Linked DNA regions of Homo sapiens. The protein of the gene in region 1 purifies or fractionates together with the protein of each later gene. This does not show direct contact. Each region holds a gene or a part of one and is shown in the gene's direction. Other genes may lie near its edges. The genes, in order: GALE, ARMC1, GALK2, ASNS, ZC3H7B, WDR1 and LRRC47.

Region 1 (2,656 bases):
TACGGCAAGTCCAAGTTCTTCATCGAGGAAATGATCCGGGACCTGTGCCAGGCAGACAAGGTGAGGGCCCCCTTGACAGTGCCCTGGCTCCACTGATCGATGGACTCCTCAGGGCCCACCCTGAGCCCAGGGGTGGGATTCCGAACACCCCCACTAAGGAGGAAGCTAAGGCTCAGGCAGTTGCAGTGGAGGGCCCCATCCCCTGCTTGTTTCTAAAGATAATAAATAGACAACTGGCCGGGCGCAGTGGCTCATACCTGTAATCTCAGCACTTTGGGAGGCCCAGGTGGGCAGATCACCTGAGGTCAGGAGTTCAAGACCAGCCTGGACAACATGGTAAAACCCCCATCTCTACTAAAAATACAAACATTAGCCGGCCATGGTGGTGTGTGCCTGTGGTCCCAGCTATTCGGGAGGCTGAGGCACAAGAATTGCTTGAACCTGGAAGGCAGAGGTTGAAGTGAGCCAAATCAGGCCACTACACTCCAGCCTGGGCCATAGTGAGACTCCATCTCAAAAAAACAGAATAGGCATGAGGAGGGCTCTGGGTTCAGCTGGGACACGCTGCCTGTGCCTCTGGCCTCACCACCTGACCCACATCCCACAGACTTGGAACGCAGTGCTGCTGCGCTATTTCAACCCCACAGGTGCCCATGCCTCTGGCTGCATTGGTGAGGATCCCCAGGGCATACCCAACAACCTCATGCCTTATGTCTCCCAGGTAAGGCAAAAGGGAAGGGACAGAGGAGTGGCCCTGGGGTTAAAGCTGGTGCCTGGGATCTGGGACGAACTGACCTGATCTCCACCTCCAGGTGGCGATCGGGCGACGGGAGGCCCTGAATGTCTTTGGCAATGACTATGACACAGAGGATGGCACAGGTGAGCCTAGGACCAGGGGGACCTAGGAGTGGGAGCCAGGAAGGAGAGTCAGGGGGAACAGACTCCCCATCCAACACACTCCCTTCTCTGCAGGTGTCCGGGATTACATCCATGTCGTGGATCTGGCCAAGGGCCACATTGCAGCCTTAAGGAAGCTGAAAGAACAGTGTGGCTGCCGGGTAGGAAGAGAAGGGAGAAGTGAGGGAGGGGAGGGACCAGATCCAGGCAGAGCGGCCCAGAGGCGTGGTCAGTCCAGCCCGCTCCATAAACCCTGTTCTCCGTGGGCCAGATCTACAACCTGGGCACGGGCACAGGCTATTCAGTGCTGCAGATGGTCCAGGCTATGGAGAAGGCCTCTGGGAAGAAGGTAGGCCCCCCCGCCCCACCCACCTCACCCACCTCACCCCACCCAGCTCTCAGCAACAGAGCAGCTTTGGCCCTTCCCACTCACCTCTCTGGAGGGTACCTGGCACTGCCCAGTCTCCTCAGCCTGCCTAGCACCCGGTGCCTGCGGGCCAGCCGCTGCTCTGCACTTCTGCTTCTTAAAGACCTGGCCAGCAGCTGGGCCAGGGCCGGCTCAGCTAAGCTCCAACTACCTCCTGTCTTGCAGATCCCGTACAAGGTGGTGGCACGGCGGGAAGGTGATGTGGCAGCCTGTTACGCCAACCCCAGCCTGGCCCAAGAGGAGCTGGGGTGGACAGCAGCCTTAGGGCTGGACAGGATGTGTGAGTGCTGGCCTGACCCCTGCAGTTAGGGGCCAGGGAGGGGCTAAATCAGATCTGGGCATGCCCACCCAGGGCGGGCTGTGGGGTGGGGGAGGCTCTGCATTCCACCGTGGGCCCTGAGCACACACCTCGCCGTGTTGCAGGTGAGGATCTCTGGCGCTGGCAGAAGCAGAATCCTTCAGGCTTTGGCACGCAAGCCTGAGGACCCTCCCCTACCAAGGACCAGGAAAAGCAGCAGCTGCCTGCTCTCCAGCCTCTGGCAGGAACTCAGGGCCCTGGAGCTGCTGGGGCCAAGCCAAGGCCTCCCCTACCTCAAACCCCAGCTGGGCCCGCTTAGCCCACCAGGCATGAGGCCAAGGGCTCCACTGACCAGGAGGCCGAGGTCTCTAACTCTTATCTTCCACAGGGTCCAAGAGTTCATCAGGACCCCCAAGAGTGAGTGAGGGGGCAAGGCTCTGGCACAAAACCTCCTCCTCCCAGGCACTCATTTATATTGCTCTGAAAGAGCTTTCCAAAGTATTTAAAAATAAAAACAAGTTTTCTTACACTGGGGCAGGTTCTCACAGATGGTCACTATCCACCCCTGGAATAGAATCAGCCAGGCCTGAGCGTTGAGGAAGCAATTTCTTTAATTTTATCGGAATCCAGGACACAACAAGAAAAACACCCAAAAACCACATGGAGACAGAAGACGAGACACAACTCCTCCCCCACTGCCTCCCTGCTCTAGAGTGGGGACAAAGTGGGGGTGAGACAGCTGGGGGGAGACCTGAACCTCAGTCCAGCCCTACAGGCTCCAGGCCTGCAGGGAAGGAGGGTAACGGGGAGGCAGGGCCCAGCCCCCCAGTGTGGGGAAACAGCTGAGGGAAGGCCCCCCTCAAAAGGCTCCACCTCCTCACCAGCACTCCTGCCCAGGGACAGGGAGCCCACAGCAGCAAGGGGACCCCGGGGCCATGGCCACATTCATGACTGAGAAGCAGCTGAGTGGAGGCAGGAGACACGATTATCTGGGCAGAATCAGTTGGGGCAGGGGCCTGGGGGGGCCCCATGGG
Region 2 (3,500 bases), on another chromosome or scaffold:
AAACATAATTTATTGGAATATTGAGGACAACATATGTTCTTTAAACATTGTGCACACAAATTTTTTCAGTCGTCTTACGTTCATTTTACTTTTCTCAAACTGTAGAGTTGCCGATTTCTAAGTTTTTATGTGATTTAGTTTTAGTTACCTGATTCTTTCTAAAGGTGTTGTAATCCTGGTTATTTCACAAGTGCTATAATATACCTCAGCAGCCTAGAACTAATTCTGCAAACCTTTTCTACAGAATTTAAGATTTTATTCATGTGCATGGCATAGAAGATGAATTCTTCCACTTCCACCATGAGTGAAGAGCCTGACGCTCTATCGGTAGTTAACCAGTTACGGGATCTAGCAGCAGATCCGTTAAACAGAAGAGCCATCGTCCAGGATCAGGGATGTCTGCCTGGCCTTATTTTATTTATGGACCATCCCAACCCTCCAGTCGTCCACTCCGCTTTGCTTGTAAGTTGCCTTTAGTAATTTCAATCTCTGTTCTATTTTTGCAGTTAAGGTGAGAATTTGGAAAAAGTGCTAGATGACAAGGTAAAAAAACGGAAAGAGAGCAATTAGTTGTTTGTATTTATGTAGGTACAAACATATGTATGTGTGGTCTGTGGTCTGTTTACACCAGTGGTAACATGCTACATTGTTTTTATTCTTTATTTTTTTTTTTTTGAGTCATCTAGGCCTGGAGTACACTGTGGCAGGATCTTAGTTCACTGCAATCTCCACCTCCTGGGCTTAAACCATCCCCCCGACCTCAGCCTCCCAAGTAGCTGGGATGATAGGCACACACCACCATGCCAGCCAAATTTTTGATATTTTGTAGAGATAGGGTTTCGCCATGTTGGCCAGGCTCAAACTCCTGAGCTCAAGTGATCCTTCCACTTTGGCCTCCCAAAGTGTTGGAATTACAGCTGTGAGTCACCATGGCCAGCCTTGTTTTTATTCTTTTATACAAATTGTTGCATACTCCATGCATGGAATGTCCTACCACTTCCTTTTCATTTAACAATCTTGAGGATTGGATCATATCATACACAGAGACACTCAAAGAGGCACTTATTTTGTTTTTATTTTATAACAGCTTTTTAAGATGTAAGCACACAGCATCATATAATTCACTCATTTAAAGTATACAATTAAGTGATTTTAGTATATTCACAGAGTTGTGTGTCACCATCACCACAACTTTTTATTTTTATTTATTATAAATAAATTTTTTTTTTTTTTTTTAGTAGAGATAGGATGTAGCTATGTTAACTAGGCTGGTCTCAAACTCCTGGCCTCAAGTGATTCTTCTACCTCGAGCTCTCAAAGTGCTTAGATTACAGATGTGAGCCACTGTGCCCGGCCCACCACAACTTTTTATCTATTGCTTCCCAGACCCCAACACTCCCTGTCCCTAAGCAACTACTAATCTACTTTTTGTATGTCTATATTTGCCTATTCTGGCAAAAATGCCTATATATTTTGCATATAAATAGGGCCAGACGTGGTGGCTCACTCCTGTAATCCTAGCACTTTGGGAGGCCGAGGTGGGTGGATCACCTGAGGTCAGGAGTTTGACACCAGCTTGGCCAACGTAGTGAAACCCTGTCTGTACTAAAAATACAAAACAATTAGCCGGGCGTGGTGGTGGGTGCCTGAAATCCCAGCTACTCAGGAGGCTGAGGCAGGAGAATCCCTTGAACCCAGGAGGCAGAGGTTGCAGTGAGCCAAGATTGTGCCATTGCACTCGAGCCTGGGCAACAAGAGTGAAACTCCGTCTCAAAAAAAAAAAAAAAAAAGTTGTTAAAAAAATTAATGTTTTGGAAATTTTATCTATTGCCCTTTACTTAAGGACTCGTGATGATTCCCCATTTAGTCTAATTTCACAAGTTTGTACAGAAGGCATATAGACTTTTCCTTTTGGAAAAAAATTTCTATTTTGCCTTTACAGAATGAAGTTTAGCAGTCAAAAAAGACATTGGTGTAAGAGAACAGTAGTAACAAATGGGAAAAATGGCACAGTCCCCAGTCTGGGTTCAATTTCAATAAGAAATGCAAGAAGGATGAGAAGAAAGAGGGGGTTGATCTATAGATAGGGACTTGGGGCTAAAGGAAGTAAGTCTTTTTTATTTTTAAATAGACTAGAATATGTCTAAGTTCAGAGGGCAAGGGCTACTAGAATGGGAGAGGTTTGAGGGGAAGGCTCTCATAATTGCAGAAAATAGGAAAGATTTGCTAACTGAGGAGAATGATAAAGTTGTTCAGCAGTGTTGAGGGCTGATTAGTTTGGTAATACTGAATCGATATGATTCAGGCCTGTTGTAGGCTCACAGAGCCAAGTACTTGGATTTGTCTAGAGTTGTTACTTGGCCAGGTTAAGTTGGGCAGAATGATTGTGCAAGGGAGTTTAGGATCTTGGCAGGATTGGTTGAAATGATATACAGTAGATACTAGGCTGAATAGGAAGGGAAGTATAAAGTCATGGAGGGACAGAGCTAAGGAGAGGGATCAGTGAGTGAAAGTTCCCAAGAGGCTGAAGAAAAGATTTTTTTGTTGTTGTTTTTGAGACAGAGTTTTTGCTCTTGCCACCCAGGCTGGAGAGCAATGGCACAATCTTGGCTCACTGCAACCTCCGCCTCCTGGGTTCAAGCGATTCTCCTGCCTCAGCCTTCTGAGTAGCTAGAATTACAGGCCCGCACCATCACATGTGGCTAATTTTTGTATTTTTAGTAGAGACGGTTTTTCACCATGTTGGCCAGGCTAGTCTCGAACTCATGACCTCAGGTGATCTGCCTGTCTTGGCCTCTCAAAGTGCTGAAATTACAGGTGTGAGCCACCATGCCTGGCCATTGGGTGTGTTGTTTTTATGATTTCCTTTTTTCGTCACTGTTAGCTTATTAGTATACACTTTTGTTTTTATTTTAATTTATTTAGTGGTTGCTGTAGGTTTTACAATATGCATCTTTAACTTCTTACAGCCTACCTTTAAATGAATCATACCCTTAACATGTAGTGTAAGAATCACACAAGAGTATATTTCCATTTCTTTCTCCCATCTTTTGTGCTATTTTTGTCATACATTTTACTTCTACATATGTTTAAAAACCTACAGTGTATATATTTTTGCCTTAAACAGTCAATTATCTTTTAAAGAGATTAAAAATTTAAAAATGTCTTTTTTTTTTTTTGAGATGGAGTCTTGCTCTGTCACCTAGGCTGGAGTGCAGTGGCGCAATCTCAGCTCACTGCAACCTCTGCCTCCCGGGTTCAAATGATTCTTCTGCCTCAGCCTCCCTAGCAGCTGAGATTACAGGTGCATGTCAGCATGCCTGGCTAATTTTTGTATTTTTAGTAGAGACAGGGTTTCGCCATGTTGGCCAGGCTGGTCTTGAACTCCTGAGTTCAGGTGATCTGCCCCCCTCAGCTTCCCAAGGTACTGAGATTATAGGCGTGAGCCACCATGCCTAGCAAAAAAAGGTCTTTTATATTTACCTTCATTTTTACATTTC
Region 3 (3,500 bases), on another chromosome or scaffold:
CTAGACACTGACTCAAAAAAACAAAAACAAAAATAAAACACAATTGGACATATATTTTCCTGTTTGCCTCAGGCTTCATTACTCCTTAATGTTGAATTGGCTGTTTTAGAGGAATCCAGATTCTTTAAATTCTCTTTCCCTGAACACTTAAAAAATGGTCTTGTATTCTATAGTAATTATAACTTGTCTTTACATTTGGCTTGGGACTTGGCTGCTTTTTTATGTAAATCAGATGATTCCTTATTCATCATGTAAAGATAACACCAACTGTGTAGTACTTTAGAGCACTATAAGGTGCTTTTATTTGAAGTTTTAAACTTTAGTTTCTTGGATCATTACAATAATCCTGTGGCTAGGGAGGTGGGTATTTTTCTCCTTATTATGGATAGGAGGTAATATATGGTGGTGGTTAAGATTATGGGTGCTGGAGTCAGATCATTTGAGTTTGGATTATATCTTTAATAATTACTAGCCTAGTCTCAGCTAATAAACCCACTCAGTTTCCTAATCTGTAAGCCACAGAGACCTATTTTATAGGTGTATTAGTCCGTTATCACACTGCTGTGAAGAAATACTTGATACTGGGTAATTTTTAAAGGAAAGAGATGTAATTGACTCACAGTTCCACATTGCTGGGGCAGCCTCAGGAAACTTACAATCATGGCAGAAGGCAAAGGAGAAGCAGGTACTTTCTTCACAGGGCGGCAGGGCGGAGTGAGTGCAGGCAGGGGAAATGCCAGACACTTATAAAATCATCAGATCTCCCGAGACTCACTCACTATCATGAGAACAGCATGAGGGAAACCAACCCTGTGATCCAATTACCTCCACCTGGTCCTGCCCTTGACACGTAGGGATTATGGGGATTACAATTCAAGATGAGCTTTTGGGTGGGGACACAGCCAAACCATATCAGTAGGGTTGTGTGAGAAATAAATAATTCAGGCAAAGCAATTAGAACACTACCTAGCACATAATAAGTGCTCAATAAACCTTAACTACTAAAACTATTAGCATTGTTAATAGAATATGAATACATGGAAAAAATAATTAATAAGCATAAATTTCTCAAACTTCTCAATGTTCTGGTTTTTTCCTCTTAAGAGGGAGGATACTTAAATTTTGGTGAATCTCATTTGTCTTTTCATATCCCTTTGAGGTAGTGAAAAATAGATTACATCATCTCCATTTTGCAGGGACTGGTTGAAGTCCAGTGAGAAAAGAATACAGGCTTTGGAGTCAGGTGAGGTTCAAATCCTGGCACTTCCACTTCTGGTTATATATCTCTAAACCTCATTTTTCTCATGTCTATAATGGGGATAAGCAGAACTTTGTTTGGAGGTTTGAAGGAGATAATGCTTACAAAAGAAATAATGCAAGGTACTTAGTATACTTACCACATACTGTGACTCAGTAAATGTGGCTGTTATTGCTGTTGAGGGGAGGGGACTTTTTACACTGGCCCAGGGTCACAGTTAGTTGGGCACCCAGGTTCCATCATCTCTTACATAATGATGAATGTACTGCTTCATCTGGGTATGTTGTTTCTCTACATTTTAAATCCAAGTGTTTTGATCTTTTGGTTACTAATTTATTTTTAATGTACATATTATGGACACTGGCTCTGTGTGTCAGCAGACTATGAACAATGCCTATTGCATCAAAATCCTAAGTTTACCTCATGTCACAAGACAAAAGTTAATGTTAGTGAATCCACATGACCAACAAGGAATATGACACTTGCAGAATCTGTCAGATGGTGTTTGGGCAGCTATTCTCAGAAATTGAAAGCAGCAGGTGTTTATTAATATTTACTATGTGTTCGGCATTATGTGAAGTAGGGGACACAAAAGAAACACCATACTTTATTCATCTCTCACAAGAAACAGATGTGATAGAAACATGAAACAATTAACAATTAAGGAGCAATAATAACACTGTGATTCACAGACATGTAGATAAAAAGACAAGTAGAGCCACACTTAAAGCATATTCAATACATGATAATAGAGTTATTAACAGGGAGTGCTGAGGAGGAGTTATGTGGTATGTATGCATATGGGTGGTGGTGCAGGTTCCACGGCAAGGTGCTGCTTGAATTGTTGACTAGTTGGGAATGCGGTGGGGAGTATTGAGTGAAGAGAATGGAAAATCATATTTGTAAAGACAATGAGATGTGAAAGAGCCTGCGGTAGTAAAGAACAGCATTTGTTTAGTATCCCTCATGGCTGGAGCTTAGGATTTACAGGAGGAGTGGTGGGAGAGCAGGCTGGAGAAGTGCACTAGGGTTAAGTCATTAAAGACCTTGTGTACCATGCTGTAGAGTATGAGCATTAAGGTGTTGGCAACCAAGCAGGCAAGAGATGATTATATCAGTTTTTCAGAATAATTATTCTAGAAACATCATATAGTAAAACAGAAATAAGGGCCCGAATAAAGTCTTACAATAAATTAAACTGAATAGATGAATGAATGAATAGTAGTGTGAGTATTAGACGATACTAACTTAAATGTTTTAGGAGTTTAGAAAAAGGGGACACCATGATGGGAATAATATTCGAAGAAGACTCCATGATGAAGAAAGATTTTTTATTTTTTTATTTTTTTTTGAGAAGGGGTCTTACTCTGTCACCAGGCTGGAGTGCAGTGGTGCAACCTCGGCTCACTGCAACCTCCGCTGCCCAGGTTCAAGAGACTCTCCTGCCTCAGCCTCCTGAGTAGCTGTGACTACGGGCATGCACCACAATGCCCAGCTAATTTTTGTATTTTTAGTAGAGATGGGGTTTCGCCATGTTGGCCAGGATGGTCTTGATCTCTTGACCTCGTGATCCGCCCACCTCGGCCTCCCAAAGTGCTGGGATTACAGGCGTAAGCCACAGTGCTGGGCCATGAAGAAAGATTTGAGTGGTCAGCCCAGGGATTTATCTATAGTAGCTAGCCAATAAACTGGATATTGGACAAAAGTACAATTTATACAGGACAGAAGACAGGAAGTAATACCAAGTTGCATAAACATGTGTGAAGTGGTCAAAGAGACAAATCTAACTGGATAAGAATGGTAAATGATACAATTTCGTATGCATAATGGTCCCAGATTTTGGAAGCCTTCGAAATGCCTGGTTGAGGCGTTTAGATTTATTTCTTAATCAATAGGAAGCCATTAAAGATTCTTAAACAGATATTTCAAGATTTTCAGTTTGGGTTAGAACATCTTGGTTGGAGGAAGATGAGCCTGATGAGATGACACCAGTTCTGATTCTTACATTTAATGGAAATGCCAGAGAGACTTCATTACTTTTGGACAGGAAAATAAAGTTTAATGACCCCACTTTGGTTATGGGTAGACTGTGGAATAGTAGTTCACTGTTGGGAGACAAAGGAAGCTGAGGCAAAAATGAATGATTGCCCATATGAGATTTTCAGTGATACCAGTCTAGGGAAGGATAGAGTAAATAGAAAGATGGTAGAAACTGCTTGCTCTGTGGAGACTATTAGGGATG
Region 4 (3,500 bases), on another chromosome or scaffold:
TCTCAGCCCGCTTCAGCTGCAGTATAACTTTTCTACACATGCCCGGATTTCCCCATGCAAGCACGCCCACAAAGGGTAATAGAATGGCACATGTTCAAGCTGGATACGCCATTGGCAGGATCCCCACAGATGGGACTTATGTGCATTATCCATTGTGTATTTTTGCTTATTTTCTGCTCTGTGGTGTTAAGATACTGAAAATGTCAAAAAGACCTGTAGATATTTCTATGAGCAGCAGTGATAAGGAAAAGTAGAAACACTTATAACACAGAAAGTCAAGCTGTAGGAGAAACTGGACTGTAGTATAAAGGTATAGATGACATGGTGAAAATGTGTGATAGAGATATTGAAGGACTAGAGCTACCTGCATTCATAACAGAACAAGAGGTCATGTCAGTTTATAAAATCAAAGAGAGCCTTCCAAGACAAAAGCCATTGTTAATGAAGCAGATGACTCTGGAGAAACATTTAAAAGTCATCTGGCCGAATGCCTCTTCAATCTCAGAGGACCCGCTTCCTAGTTGCTCAGCTGCTTCTGATGTTTCTTCTCACCTGAAAAAGGAAAAAAAAATACAGTGTATAGTAACCTTTTAATCAAAACGCAGCATTGTAGGTGGAGTCTGAAAGCCTGCCATTGTTTGTACAGCTGTTTAACAGCTGATGCAGGTATTCTGGTGATTCTACTATGCTACTTATTACTTTCTTACTGTATTAATGGTATGTCATATTTTATAAGCATATGAAAATGATTGCTCATCAGCAGCATAATAAATTCAGAGTCAGGAATGATGGTCAATGATGTCAAACAGCCACAGATTTTCCACATGGTAGCTGAGATAGTGACCCCTTTGCTTTCTGATGGTTCCATGTATGCAAACTTTGTTTCATGCACAAAATTATTTGAAATATTATATAAAATTACCTTTAGGTTTTGTGTATAAGATATATGAAACATAAATGAAGTTCATGTTTAGACTTGGGTCTCATGCCCAAGATATCTCACATATATGCAAATATTCCAAAGTCCAAAACACAAAACACTTCTGGTTCCAAACATTTCAGATAAGGGATACTCAATCTGTATATATATAAATATATGTATGTATTACATATATGGTATGTATATAATATACATTTCCATCCCTCCACAGGTTACTGTTCTGGCACATTCCCATTATGTTCTGTTTATCAGACTGCAACTAAAATTTTCATGGGTTCGGCTTTATGTTGAACAGAATTTGCAGAATATGAGTTGAAGCGAACCATAGTTTAATAATGCTGTGATTCTCCTAAATCACCAAAGTGCATGAAAGGATTATAGAGCTCAGAAATACTGAAGCATCTTTGCAATAAAAAATTATTAGTGAATGTACAAGGAGTCTAACATTTTGGTTTTGCTTTCGCTTCCTAAGATGCAACAGCATTTTGAATTTGAATACCAGACCAAAGTGGATGGTGAGATAATCCTTCATCTTTATGACAAAGGAGGAATTGAGCAAACAATTTGTATGTTGGATGGTGTGTTTGCATTTGTTTTACTGGATACTGCCAATAAGAAAGTGTTCCTGGGTAGAGATACATATGGAGTCAGACCTTTGTTTAAAGCAATGACAGAAGATGGATTTTTGGCTGTATGTTCAGAAGCTAAAGGTAATAATAAATTTTTCTATAGATTTTCATTATTGTCTTGGTTGTACGTTTTCTTTTAAATTATATTTGAAAATCTCTTAGAGAGCAATCCAGAATTTTACAAGTGACTAAGTTATGAGTCTTTACCTTTTTTTAAAAAAACAGAGGAGTTGTACTCTCCTTTTCAGCACTTAAATTCTGTAATCCTTGAAGGATGATTCTTTAGTGCAGTCGTTTATTTTTTGCTGTGCTAATATGCTCTACATCTAGCTTGATCTTAAGTGCAGTTTTAAGTTTTCCTGTGTCATACTATAATCGTAGGGTTGACTCTGCAATTATTGCATTGTGGTACTTTGCGCAGTTATAGCACAGCAAGTGTTAGGATTTCTAAAACAGCTTTATTGATAATTCACATACCATGTAATTCACCCACTTGAAGTATACAGTTCAGTGGTTTTTAGTATATTCACAGATGTTGGTAAACAACACTCCAATCAGTTTTAGGATTGTTTTTCCACCTCAAAAAAAACCAAATCAAATCCTATGCCCTTTACCTTAGTTTTTGCTGGCAGGATCAACTAGGTTTTTGTTTGTTTGTTTGTTTGAAGAGATGGGGTCTTGCTCAGTCGCCCAGCCCAGGCTGGAGTGCGGTGGTTTGATAGCTCAGTGCAGCCTTGAACTCGTGGGCTCAAGCGATTCTCCCACCTCAGCCTCCCTAGTAGCTAGGAGTATAGGCATGCACCACAACACCCTGCCTCCTGTGCCCTTTAGCTTTGAATTCCATCTCTCCATATCCATCAGCTGCACCCCTGCAGTTGTAGCCCCGGCAATCACCAGTCTTTCTGCCTCTGGATTCCCTATTCTGTATGTTTCATATGAACGGGATTATATATCATACCGGCTTTTGTGACTGGATTCTTTCACTTGGTATAGTGCTTTCAAGATTTGTCTATGCCGTAGCATGTATCAGTACTTACTTCTTATGGCCAAATGATATTCCATTACATGGATACACTGCATTTTGTTTATTCGCTTGTCAGTTGATGGACATTTAGGACATTATTTACCCCTTTTGGCTATTATGAATAATGCTGCTATAAACATTGGTGTACAAGTTTTTGTGTGGACATTTCCCTTGGGTGTATATCTAGGAGTAGAATTGCTGGGACACATGATAACTATGTTCAGTTGAAGAACTGCCAGACTAATTTTTGAAATGGCTGCATCATTTTTTATTCACTCCAGCAGTGTATTAAAATTTCTGTTTCTCCACATCTTCACAAACAGTGTGTGACTTTAATTCTAGCCATTCTAGTGTATGTGAAGTGGTATCTCATTGTGATTTTGATTTGTATTTTCCTGTTGACAGTGATGTCCAGCATCTTATCTTATGCTTATTGGCCATTTGTATATCTTCTTTGGAGAAATATTTGTTCAGATCCTTTGCCATTTTTTTTTCCTGTTAGGGATCATTTTATTTTAAAAACATAATAGACTTTATTTTTTTTTTTGAGCAGTTTTAGAAAAAATTGAGAGGAAAGTGCAGAGAGTTCACATATGCTCCCCCTACAGTGCCCCTGCCCAGTTTTCCCCACTCTTAACATCTTGCATTACTGTGCTACATTTATTAGATTTGATGAACTGATACTTATATATTAACTGAAGTTCATAGTTTACATAAGGGTTCACTCTTTGTGTTTTATAGATTTTTGGATTTGACAAATGTTTAATGCCATGTACCCACCATTACAGTATTATGTAGAACAGTTTCATTGCCCTAAAAATCTCCTGTGCTCCACTTATTCTTTCCTCCCGTCCTCTTCCTCCTAACCCCCCAGTCATTACTGATCTTTTTGCTTTCTCTCTCACTT
Region 5 (3,500 bases), on another chromosome or scaffold:
AAAATACAAAAAAAAAAAAAAAAAAAAAAAAATTAGCTGGGCATGGTGGCACATGCCTGTAATCCCAGCTACGCGAAGGCTGAGGCAGGAGAATCTCTTGAACTCAGGAGGCAAAGGTTGTAGTGAGCTGAGATCGCGCCACTGCACTCCACCCTGGGTGACTGAGCAAGACTCCATCTCAAAAAATCAAAAAGAAAGAGACAATCCCCAAATCCCCACAAAACAAAACTAAGCTTTTTTTTTTTTTTTTTTGAGACAGGGTCTTGCTCTGTCGTCCAGGCTGGAGTGCAGCGGCGCAGTCTTGGCTCACTGCAACCACTGCCTCCTGAGTTCAAGCGATTCTCCTGCCTCAGCCTCCCAGGTAGCTGGGATTACAGGCACCCACCACCATGCCCGGCTAATTTTTCTATTTTTGGTAGAGATGGGGTTTCACCATGTTGGCCAGGCTGGTCTTGAACTCCTGACCTCAGGTGATCCGCCCACCTCTGCCTCCCAAAGTGCTGGGATTACAGGCATGAGCCACTGTGCCCAGCCAGAAGTAAGCATTCTTTATAGGTCTGCATGCATGCATTCCTAGAAAAGAGCCCTAAGGAAACACATCAGCCCAGCAGAGTGTGATTCCCTCCTGGAGAAGCCTAGGGTGAAGGGGGAGATCCAGGGAGCACTTGCTGTCCCTGTAACATTCTTCCCTTCTACAGTGACATTGTCACTTTTGCTGAATTTTAGAAATAAAAAGATTATATTAAAATAAAAACAAAATGATTCATTTTCCATCCCCAAATAAAAGGAAAAACAGAAGCATGGGATGGTGGTCCTGGTGCCACCACTCACTAGCTGTGTGACTTGGACAAGCCAGGGACACCTCCTGGGGCCTCACTTTCTCATCTATAACATGGGGTGACTATGACCTCCCTCCGTAGGGCTGCACAGGTGTCCAGGAGCACAGCTTTGTGAGCCCGGGCAGACTGACCCACCGCCCTGTGTCTTGTCCTCTGCAGGATGAAAGCGTGACTCAGCTTGGTCAGGAGCTGGCCCAGAAACTGGGGCTGCGAGTTCGCAAGGCGTATAAGAGGCCCCAGGTAGGTGGGTTCGGGACCCTGGGAGGGTCGGTGTGGACGTGAGGAGGTCTGAAGGGAGGGACCAGGCTCCGTGGGGAAGGTGGGTGAGGGTGGCCAGGGCTGGGTTAGGACAGAGGGGAGTGACAGCAGGTGATCTTCCTTGTCTGTTGGCTGAAAGCCCTGGAACCTTTCGGAAAAGGAGAGAGCAGCCACCGCTTCTAGCTCACTTTAGACTCCAACTGTTGAAAACCACTCCCTCCCCTGTGCTGGCTGACTTTAGTCACCTGGAGGTGGCCTGAGTTGACACTGGCGTCCTTCAGCATTATGTTCTCAACACCCATATGGTGCAAATTTGAAGTGTTGGTATCTGTTTGGCTGGTTCAGTTCCACATAGATTCATTTGGTACCTGCCGAGGGCCAGGAGGCTGCACAAGGGAAACTCGTGACTCGAGTCTCTGCTGTGACCTTGAGCAAGTTAGTTCATCTCTTTCCACCTTGGTTTCCTCATCTGGACGATGGAGATAATTTATGCCCACCCCAGAGGGCTCATGGGAGGATTAAAAAGAGAGAATGGATGGGCTGGACGCAGTGCCTCATGCCTGTAATCCCAGCACGTTGGGAGGCCAAGGCGGGCAGATCACCTGAGGTCAGGAGTTTGAGACCAGCCTGATCAACATGTAGAAACCCCATCTCTACTAAAAATACAAAAATTAGCTTGGGGTGGTGGCACATGCCTGTAATCCCAGCTACTCGGGAGGCTGAGGCAGGAGAATCACTTTTTTTTTTTTTTTTTTTTGAGACGGACTCTCGCTCTGTCACCCAGGCTGTAGTGCTGGAGTGCAGTGGCGCGATCTCAGCTCACTGCAAGCTCCGCCTCCCGGGTTCACGCCATTCTTCTGCCTCGGCCTCTCCGAGTAGCTGGGATTACAGGCGCCCGCCACCACGCCCGGCTAATTTTTTATATTTTTAGTAGAGATGGGGTTTCACCGTGGTCTCGATCTCCTGACCTCGTGATCCGCCCGCCTCAGCCTCCCAAAGTGCTGGGATTACAAGCGTGAGCCACCGCGCCCAGCTGAGAATCACTTGAACCCGGGAGGCGGAGGTTGCGGTGAGCCAAGATCGCACCATTGCACTCCAGCCTGGGCAACGAGCGAAACTCTGTCTCAAAAAAAATAAATAAATAAAAGGCCGGGCGCGGTGGCTCATGCCTGTAATCCCAGCACTTTGGGAGGCCGCGGTGGGAGGATCACGAGGTCAGGAGATCGAGACCAGACCATCCTGGCTAACGCAGTGAAAGCCTGTCTCTACTAAAAATACGAAAAAATTAGCGGGGGTGGTAGCGAGCGCCTGTAGTCCCAGCTACTCTGAAGGCTGAGGCAGGAGAATGGTGTGAACCCAGGAGGCGGGACTTGCAGTGAGCAGAGATCGTGCCACTGCACTCCAGCCTGGGCAACAGAGCGAGACTCTGCCTCAAAAAAAAAAAAAAAAAAAAAGAGAGAGCAAATGGGCCGGGTGCAGTGGTTCATGCCTATAATCGTAGTACTTTGGGAGGCCGAGGTGGGCAGGTTGCTTGAGCTCAGGAGTTCAAGACCAGCCTGGGCAACATGGCGAAACCGTATCTCTACAAAAAGTACAAAAATTAGCCTGGTGTGGTGGTGCATGCCTGTAGTCTCAGCTACTTGGGAGGCTGAGGTGGGAGGATCACATGAACCCCAGAGGTCAAGGCTGCAGAGAGCCGAGATTGCATCCAGCCTAGGGGACAAAGTGAGACTCTGTCTCAGAAAAAATTTAAAAATTAACAAATAAAAAAATAGAATGTTTGAGATGGTGCCTAGCATGGTGCCTGACACACAGTAGAGGTGTGCAGGGAGGTCCTCTGCCCAGGTCAAGGTTGGAAGAAGAAAACCCCAGAATCTGACCCAGAGAGACAGAGCAGTTGATTTCCGGCAGGCCTGGGGACAGGGACTCTCGGGGGCGCTGCAGACCCCAGCTGCTTGTGTCAGGGCCTCTTTGCTGCCCCAGCTAAGGGGACCTTGAGCATCTTTTCAGAATCTTTACCTCTGCCCACCTCTCTCCAATCTCTGGCAGGAATTGGAAACCTTTTCTCTGCTCAGTAACGGCACTGCGGCTGGCGTGGCAGATCAGGTAGGATCGGGGCTGAACCAACCTGTCTCAGTTTATCCATTATGAGAGGTTTGGATTCACTCTCTCCGGGTATAAATGACCTCAGGCAGTGGGTCCAGGGGCCTCCGCCTCCCTAGGAGGTACCTCCCGTGTCCACGGGGGCAGGATGTGGGGACAGGCCATGGCTGCTGTTGGCAGGGAGTGGTCATTGCCGGGGAGCCGCCGGGGGCAGCCTCACTCTTGAACCCTGGCCAGGACACAGTCTGGGCAGCCTGGTCCCACACGCCTTCCTTCTGCCTCCTGCCCCACATTTCCTGC
Region 6 (3,500 bases), on another chromosome or scaffold:
CCATCTCTACTAAAAATACAGAAATTAGCCAGGCGTGGTGGCGGGCACCTGTCGTCCCAGCTACTCGGGAGGCTGAGGCAGGAGAATGGCGTGAACCCGGGAGGCGGAGCTTGTAGTGAGCAGAGATTGTGCCACTGCACTCCAGCCTGGGCAACAGAGCCAGACAGGGCTGGTGCCTCCAGGAAGAGGCCTCCTGGTCTCAGCCATCGTGAAGCTTAAGGATTGGGGCTTGAGCTCTTTCAGAGCCCAGAGGGAAGAGGGCAGCTGCTGGGGGCACCTCACTGGGGGGGGCATAACTGGAGGTGGTCTGCCTTCGCTCGGGCTAATCAGCTTTCCCAGCAGGTAGAGCGGTCAGCATGGCAGGCAGGCTGGAGCAGACTCCTGCCCCTCCACTAAGGGACTGCCCAGGATGTTTTTTTAAGCTCTGAAATTTTCCAGTGGACTAACAGTTCACACTGATGAACAGCTGGAGCTGCAAGCTGTGTTTCATAGAGAGCATTCTTGAACCTAGAGTCAGGCCTGCGGCCCCTCATCAGGCAGGTAATTGTTTTCCTGCAGGACCACAGCCGCTTTGTCAACTGTGTGCGATTCTCTCCTGATGGGAACAGATTTGCCACAGCCAGTGCTGACGGCCAGGTAAGAACTGGGATGGGTTTTGGGGTGGGGAATGGCTTGTCTGCCTGCTCCCGTGACTGCTCAGAGCCGCAGGCTGCCTAATGCTAGTCCTGACATGCAGAACTTAGACATCGCCCTCCCCACATCTGCAGACTCGTCGTCAGAGCCCAGTAAATGCATGTCTGCTTTTAAACCACACTGGGAGCTTAGTCTGTGAGCCCCGGTTTTCTACAGCCACAGTCCATGGAGAAACTGCTTACTCCAGAGGGTGTTCACACACACATGACCCACATGTTTTTATTTCTTGGAAGATATACATCTATGACGGGAAGACTGGGGAGAAGGTGTGCGCGCTGGGCGGAAGCAAGGCCCACGACGGTGGGATTTACGCAGTGAGTATGAGCGTGTTTCCCGGCCTAGTGGTGGGAATTTGGCCGAGTCCACGTGTCAGTCCATCCACACTCACTCCGGAGTTAGACAAAAACTTGAAATGAGGGGCTATAAGTCGGGGCGGTTTTATATCTGCCCAGAAAAGCTTTAAGGTCGCAATAAGGTGATGGGAGAAGGTAGTGGCTGGAACGGGAGACCTGGAGGCGGGTGTTGTCCTTGGCCTCACTCATGTCCCACCCTCTCTCTGGGCTCCTTCTGTCCTACTCAAACAGTCGCAGTGGACAAGCTGCTTTTTGGGGTCTCTCTCCAGTCTGTAGTCCTCTGGCACATGACACACTGCTTTTTTCTGAATAGATTAGTTGGAGTCCCGACAGCACCCATTTGCTTTCTGCTTCTGGGGACAAAACTTCCAAGATTTGGGACGTCAGCGTGAACTCCGTGGTCAGCACATTTCCCATGGGCTCCACGGTTCTGGACCAGCAGCTGGGCTGCCTATGGCAGAAGGACCACCTGCTCAGTGTCTCCCTGTCCGGGTACATCAACTATCTGGACAGAAACAACCCCAGCAAGCCCCTGCACGTCATCAAGGTAAGGCCTGCCCTGGGGAAGGCTCTGCCCGCTGGGTGGACAGGGAAGAGACCAGAGTGGCCAGCAAGGAAGGGGAACCGAGGGGAAGCCAGGTGGAAGCTAGAGAGGTGTCCTCAGGCCTCCTTGGCCCTTGGGGTTTTGGTGGAAGGCTGGGATGCTGGTTGCTTTCTTGGGACATGAGTTTAGCCATGGTGGCAGGCCAGGTGCCAAGTTCCCCTTGAGCTACTGTGAGAACTGGAGAGTCAGGGCCTAGTGATTCGGGGCAGTGGCCATCACCCCCAGCTGTTGAGAGCGGTTACTTCCTGCAGGGCTCTGCCTTCCCTGAATTGGGAGTGCACAGCCTGTGCTTTACCCGACTGCAGGCAAGAGCAGAAGCTCACTGAGCACCAGGGCAGGTGACGGGGCATCGCTGAGGTCCAGGGGCAGGAGGGAGGAGCAAGAGCAGGTGGCCTTGGGCCTGGGCCTTGGCGCTGCCTGGAGTTTGAATGTGGTGGGCAGGGTGTGAAGGAGATACTGGAGTTCCATAAGGGAGCGATGGGAGCAGGAGGAAACGGAGTTAGAATCATCCATGGGTCCCAGGTGTGAAGGCCCCAAATGCCAACCTGGGGAGGAGCAAGGTGCCTGCTTCTGAACCCTAACCCGGAAGGGTTCACTTGAGCCAAAGGCTCCCTGTGTTCCATTGGCTGGGGGGGTCCTGCCTTCTCCCTCCACCCACACCAGCCAAGTTGACGCCTCTGGGAATCTCGCAGCTGGACAGGAGCCAGAGCAGGGGTCCCTTCTGTATCCTCAGGTCCTCCTCTCACAGCAGCGCCCTCGCCTGCTTCCCACACTGCATCTGCTGGGAACTCCAAGTCAGGTTCCCCCAGCGCTGGTGGCCCAGGGTGGGTGACCCCTCCTGCTATTCTAAGCTGTAATATCAAGGCAGGTGGACAATGCACTTCATCCCAGCAGCCCTTCTCGGGCTCCTGCTTTAAGCCACTCGGGGAGACAAACCCTAGCACTTCCCTCACCCATTGCATCCTGCTGCCGTGGAGCTCTGGGGGACCAGCCTCTGCAGAGGGTCTGAACCCTGCAGGGCTAGTGTGGGCCAGCCTGGAGCAGCCCCCGGGCCTGTGCACTCGGCCCGTGCTGTGCTGTCAGTGGCTCCTTCACACCACGGCTTCTAGGAGGGGCTGCTAGAATCACCAAATCCATTCTACATGGGAGTTTGCCCACGAGGAAGGGGCCTCGTTAACGTTGTGTGTGTGACTCCTACGGACCAGGTCACCTCAACGCTCATGCATAGAGTCACGGTTCCTTTGTGCCGGGGCAGTGGGGGCAGCAGCACTGCTGAGAGGGGGAAGGCTGAACCATAAAGGTTCACTAGACGTGGCCTCGAGGATAGAGGGGAATCGGGAGCGCCTCCTTGCTGGGCTCACAGCCCAGGGTGATGAGTATAAAAAGGAAGGCACGCACAGCATGGGGCCGAGGAGGTTGTTGCCTGGGGGAGCTGAGGGCTCTTGTCGAGACCATGCTCCAGTGGGCCTCCAAGTGGGATGGTGAGAAATTGTACACGGGTGAGTAAGGCTTCGCTACTGCCCAGAAAAACAGTTTCCCATGAGCCATCCCCGACAGTGTTCTCCAGGTGTCAGCCCTCAGGTCTGCCGTCCCGTTTCTGTTGGCAGGGCTGCCCTGAGAGTGCTCTTCCTAATACCACTGCTGCCAACTGTCTGGGGCCAGTGCACCCGGCCTGCCACCGTGGCTAAACTTATGTCCCAAAAAAGCAACCAGCATCCCACCCTTCCACCAAAACCCCAAGGGCCAGTTGTCAAAACCCCCATGTCCCAACTCTCAAATGCCACACCTGTGTGAGTCACGCAGATGCTGATGTTCGGTGCTGATCTGGGCTGCAGTGGGATGGAGCAGCA
Region 7 (4,215 bases), about 20 Mb from region 1:
GAACCACTGCACTCCAGCCTGGGTAACAGAGCAAGACTCTGTCTCAATAAATAAATAAATAAATAAATAAGAATTTGGGGGCTGGGTGCGGTGGCTTGTGCCTGTGAGCCCAGCACTTTGGGGGGCTGAGGCGAGCAGATCACCTGAGGTCAGGTGTTCGAGACCAGCCTGGCCAACATGGCGAAAACCGGTTAATATAAAAATTATATTAACACGGTTAATATAAAAATTAACCGGCCACGGTGGCATGCACCTGTAGTTCCAGCGGGAGGCTGAGGCAGGAGAATTGCTTGAACCCAGGAGGCGGAGGTTGCAGTGAACCAAGATAGCATCACTGCACTCCAGCCTGGGTGACAGAGCGAGACTCCGTCTCAAGAAAAAAAAAAGAATTTTGGTTTTGGTTTACACCACTCAAAAGTGCAGGAATTCCAAAACAAGCCGGTCGGGGCACAGTAGAGCACAGACTCTGGCTCCTCCATCCGCCCGCACCCCACCCTGTGAAAGGAAAATAAATCTCAAAACCCCACAATCACTAAGTCAAAGGAAAAAGTCAAGCTGGGAACTGCTTCGGGCAAATCGGCCTCCCGTCTTATTCCTAAATAAGATAGTTACAAATACATATTTTTAAAGCTACACACCTCCCTCACAATTTGCCCACAAAGAAATTCTCTGTGGGCCTCAAGATCTTTACCCTAAAACAGTTCTGTTGAATTTCACCCTGGCAATGCAAATTGATAGCTTCCCTTCACAGGTGCGAGACAAAGGACTGAACTCAAAGCCATCCCTCTGCTCACCTAGACAAATGCATATCTGATCGCTTCCTTTGCTCTACTGTTTACGTAGAAATGAAGATTCAGTAAGCCAGACTAAAGCATAAGCGACTATTCCTCTACCCGCGTCTCACATGCATAATAAATTGTGCAGTCAGCGAAAGGCTGAACAAAGACTCAAAAGAATGCACCCTCCGGTCTCTTCTCTACCTGTGACCTGAAAGCCCTCTCCTGGAATTGTCCAGCCTTTCTGGGCTGAACCAAGGTACACTCGCACGTGTTGATTGATGTCTCACGTCTCCCCAAAATGTACAAAACCAAGCTGCATCCCAACTTCCCTGGGCACCATCGTCACGATCTCCTAGGGTTGTGACACTGGCGTGTCCTTAACCTTGGCAAAATAAACTTTTTACATTTCATTGAGTCCTGTCTCAGATATTTTTGGGTTCATAACCCCCACCCTCACCCCTACCCGCGGAGAGAGCGAGCCGCTCTCCAGCCCCTCCCCGGCTCTACGCAGGAGAGGCCACTCTCCTCTATGGCACGCGCGGCGGCACTCTAGCAGCCAGGTGGCTTCTCTATGGGCTTTTCCGGCACAGGTCGGAAGTGGCGCGCGCTGCCCCGGAAGCACCCTGGTGGGTGGGTGCCTGCCAGCAGCTGAGGCGCCATGGCGGCGGCAGCGGTGTCAGAGTCTTGGCCGGAGCTGGAGCTGGCTGAGCGCGAGCGGCGGCGGGAGCTGCTGCTGACGGGGCCCGGGCTGGAGGAGCGAGTGCGGGCGGCGGGTGGGCAGCTGCCGCCGCGGCTTTTCACCCTGCCGCTGCTGCACTACTTGGAAGTGAGCGGCTGCGGGAGCTTGCGCGCGCCGGGGCCTGGCCTGGCGCAGGGCCTGCCGCAGCTGCACAGCCTCGTGCTGCGGCGCAACGCGCTGGGGCCCGGCCTGAGCCCCGAGCTCGGGCCGCTGCCTGCCCTTCGGGTGCTCGACCTGTCGGGCAACGCGCTGGAGGCGCTGCCGCCGGGCCAAGGCCTGGGCCCCGCCGAGCCGCCGGGCCTTCCGCAGCTGCAGAGCCTCAACCTCAGCGGCAACCGGCTGCGCGAGCTGCCAGCCGACCTGGCGCGCTGCGCCCCGCGCCTGCAGAGCCTCAACCTCACCGGCAATTGCCTAGACTCCTTTCCCGCCGAGCTCTTTCGCCCCGGCGCGCTGCCCCTGCTCAGTGAACTGGCGGCTGCTGACAACTGCCTCCGAGAACTCAGCCCCGACATCGCCCACCTGGCCTCGCTCAAGGTCAGCGGGGGCTGCCCGGGCGGGGCGGGATGGGGCCTTGGAGTAGCCCTGGAGAAGGAACCCCTCTCGGGGCCGAGCAGTTCCTAGTGACGCCCCCTGGGGCACTGGGCCCAGGGAATTCCTACAAGGCTGAAAGGAGCCAGCTGCGGGGGGCATCACCCCTGGGAAGCAGATGCCGCCTTCCAACTCCCCCTTCTCCTGGCCACACCAACATACTAGGTGGCCTCTGAACTCCCCCGCATTCTGTTAACTGGACTTTTACACGTGGTACGCTATTTTGTAATTGTTAGCAAACCTGGCTTCTCCTGTAGATCGAGCGTAGAGACCTGTCTTTTTTGTATCTAGTACTTGTGAAGTGACTTGAGAGTGAGTCTGGTGGTGAAGGGGGCACCCTGGATTTTGCATAATGCCACATGCTGTGATCTTGAAGATTATATTTCACTTCATCCTAATAGCAGCTTTCCAAGGTAGGGGTGGTTATTCCTGTTTTACAGAAAGCCAAAGGGCCTGCCCAAAGTAAGCAGCAGGTAACTTGGGTTTTTCTCCAGACTATATTGTCCAGCGTCTGTTTACTAATTAATCTTGGATCCCCAGGCCCCGCGATAATGCTTGGCCTATAACAGGTGCCCATTGAATCTGTTGCCTAAAAGAAAGTAGGGAAGCCACATGGCAGAACCACGACCTAAACCCAGCCAGATGTTCTCTCCATCTTCTCTTTTGGTTTCATCCTTAAGGCAGTCCTGCATTTCTTCCCCCATTTTTCGTCTTTGAATTTATGCAGACATTTCTTTTTTTTTTTTTTTTTTTTGAGATGTAGTCTGGTCCTGTCACCCAGGCTGGAGTGCAGTGGCGCGATCTCGGCTCACTTCAACCTCCGCCTCCCGGGTTCAAGCGGTTCTTCTGCCTCAGCCTCCTGAGTAGCTGGGCTTACAGGCGCACACCACCACGCCCGGCTAACTTTTGTGTTTTTAGTAGAGACGGGTTTCACTGTGTTGGTCAGGCTGGTCTCGAACTCCTGACCTCATGTGATCCGCCTGTCTCGGCCTTCCAAAGTGCTAGGATTACAGGTGTGAGCCACCGCGCCTGGCCTATGTGGACATTTCTTAATAAAATACGTATACACTTTAGCAGCTTATCTATTTATTTGCTGTAGCAATTCCTCAAGACATTGCAACTCATTTTACAAGTAACATATCTATATAAGGATATATAGACAAACCCTGGCCGGGCGCGGTGGCTCACACCTGTAATCCCAGCACTTTGGGAAGCTGAGGCGGGCAGATCGCTTGAGGTCACACCACCAGCCTGGCCAACATGGTGAAACCCCATCTCTACAAAAATACAAAAATTAGCTGGGCCTGGTGGCGCGTGCCTGTAGTCCCAGCTACTCGGGAGGCTGAGGTGGGAGGATCACTTGAGCCCAGGAAGTGGAGGTTGCAGTGAGCTGTGATACCAGCCTGAACAGAGCGAGACCCTGTGGCAAAAAAAACAAACCCACTGTAGAGTGACACATGGTTACTGATGTAACTGCCCAATGGGTTCATTTTATCCACTACCCGGATAGAGCTGATTTATCAGGGCAGGAGGGTTGCAATAGAGAAAGTTTTACACATGTAGAGCCAGCTAAAGTGGAGACTGGAGTTTTACTGTTATTATTATTGTTGTTTGAGATGGAGTCTCGCTCTGTCTCCCAGGCTGGTGTGCAGTGGTGCAACCTTGGCTCACTGCAAGCTCCGCCTCCCGGGTTCACGCCATTCTCCTGCCTCAGCCTCCCGAGTAGCTGGGACTACAAGCGCCCGCCACAACACCCAGCTAATTTTTCGTATTTTTAGTAGAGATGGAGTTTCACTGTGTTAGCCAGGATGGTCTCGATCTCCTGACCTCATGATCTGCCTGTCTTGGCCTCCAAGGTGCTGAGATTACAGGCATGAGCCACCGCGCCCGGCCGAGTTTTATTACTAAATCAGCTTCCCCAAAAATTTGGAGGCGGGGTTTTTCAAGGATAGTTTGGGGAAAGGGGAGGGTGGCTAGGCAACGGGTGCTTGCTGCTGATTGGTTGAGGTGCAATCATAGGGGTGTGGGAAACGGTCCTGCTTACTGAGTCACTTCTGGCTGGGGCTGCGGGGAGCTCTTTTTGGTTTCAGGTAGAGCCATTGATCAGAC

What was found.
Region 2: the proteins of GALE (region 1) and ARMC1 fractionate together in Homo sapiens (co-fractionation; one large-scale study listed by BioGRID). This does not show direct contact.
Region 3: the proteins of GALE (region 1) and GALK2 fractionate together in Homo sapiens (co-fractionation; one large-scale study listed by BioGRID). This does not show direct contact.
Region 4: the proteins of GALE (region 1) and ASNS fractionate together in Homo sapiens (co-fractionation; one large-scale study listed by BioGRID). This does not show direct contact.
Region 5: the proteins of GALE (region 1) and ZC3H7B fractionate together in Homo sapiens (co-fractionation; one large-scale study listed by BioGRID). This does not show direct contact.
Region 6: the proteins of GALE (region 1) and WDR1 fractionate together in Homo sapiens (co-fractionation; one large-scale study listed by BioGRID). This does not show direct contact.
Region 7: the proteins of GALE (region 1) and LRRC47 fractionate together in Homo sapiens (co-fractionation; one large-scale study listed by BioGRID). This does not show direct contact.

What each region holds. Positions count from the first base shown.
Region 1 is NC_000001.11:23,795,099-23,797,754, reverse strand, and holds the end of GALE (UDP-glucose 4-epimerase), read left to right. Parts: coding exon 1-60; intron 61-607; coding exon 608-721; intron 722-812; coding exon 813-879; intron 880-972; coding exon 973-1,058; intron 1,059-1,168; coding exon 1,169-1,246; intron 1,247-1,489; coding exon 1,490-1,604; intron 1,605-1,747; coding exon 1,748-1,806; 3' UTR 1,807-2,156; downstream 2,157-2,656. UniProt on the Homo sapiens protein: Catalyzes two distinct but analogous reactions: the reversible epimerization of UDP-glucose to UDP-galactose and the reversible epimerization of UDP-N-acetylglucosamine to UDP-N-acetylgalactosamine.
Region 2 is NC_000008.11:65,624,178-65,627,677, reverse strand, and holds part of ARMC1 (armadillo repeat-containing protein 1), read left to right. Parts: intron 1-244; 5' UTR 245-279; coding exon 280-462; intron 463-3,500.
Region 3 is NC_000015.10:49,278,247-49,281,746, forward strand, and holds part of GALK2 (N-acetylgalactosamine kinase), read left to right. Parts: intron 1-3,500. UniProt on the Homo sapiens protein: Acts on GalNAc. Also acts as a galactokinase when galactose is present at high concentrations. May be involved in a salvage pathway for the reutilization of free GalNAc derived from the degradation of complex carbohydrates.
Region 4 is NC_000007.14:97,862,409-97,865,908, reverse strand, and holds part of ASNS (asparagine synthetase [glutamine-hydrolyzing]), read left to right. Parts: intron 1-1,412; coding exon 1,413-1,650; intron 1,651-3,500.
Region 5 is NC_000022.11:41,329,025-41,332,524, forward strand, and holds part of ZC3H7B (zinc finger CCCH domain-containing protein 7B), read left to right. Parts: intron 1-998; coding exon 999-1,079; intron 1,080-3,146; coding exon 3,147-3,203; intron 3,204-3,500. UniProt on the Homo sapiens protein: May be a specific regulator of miRNA biogenesis. Binds to microRNAs MIR7-1, MIR16-2 and MIR29A hairpins recognizing the 'ATA(A/T)' motif in the apical loop.
Region 6 is NC_000004.12:10,085,800-10,089,299, reverse strand, and holds part of WDR1 (WD repeat-containing protein 1), read left to right. Parts: intron 1-558; coding exon 559-636; intron 637-767; coding exon of another isoform or gene 768-926; coding exon 927-1,007; intron 1,008-1,359; coding exon 1,360-1,593; intron 1,594-3,500.
Region 7 is NC_000001.11:3,793,699-3,797,913, reverse strand, and holds the start of LRRC47 (leucine-rich repeat-containing protein 47), read left to right. Parts: upstream 1-1,415; 5' UTR 1,416-1,437; coding exon 1,438-2,052; intron 2,053-4,215.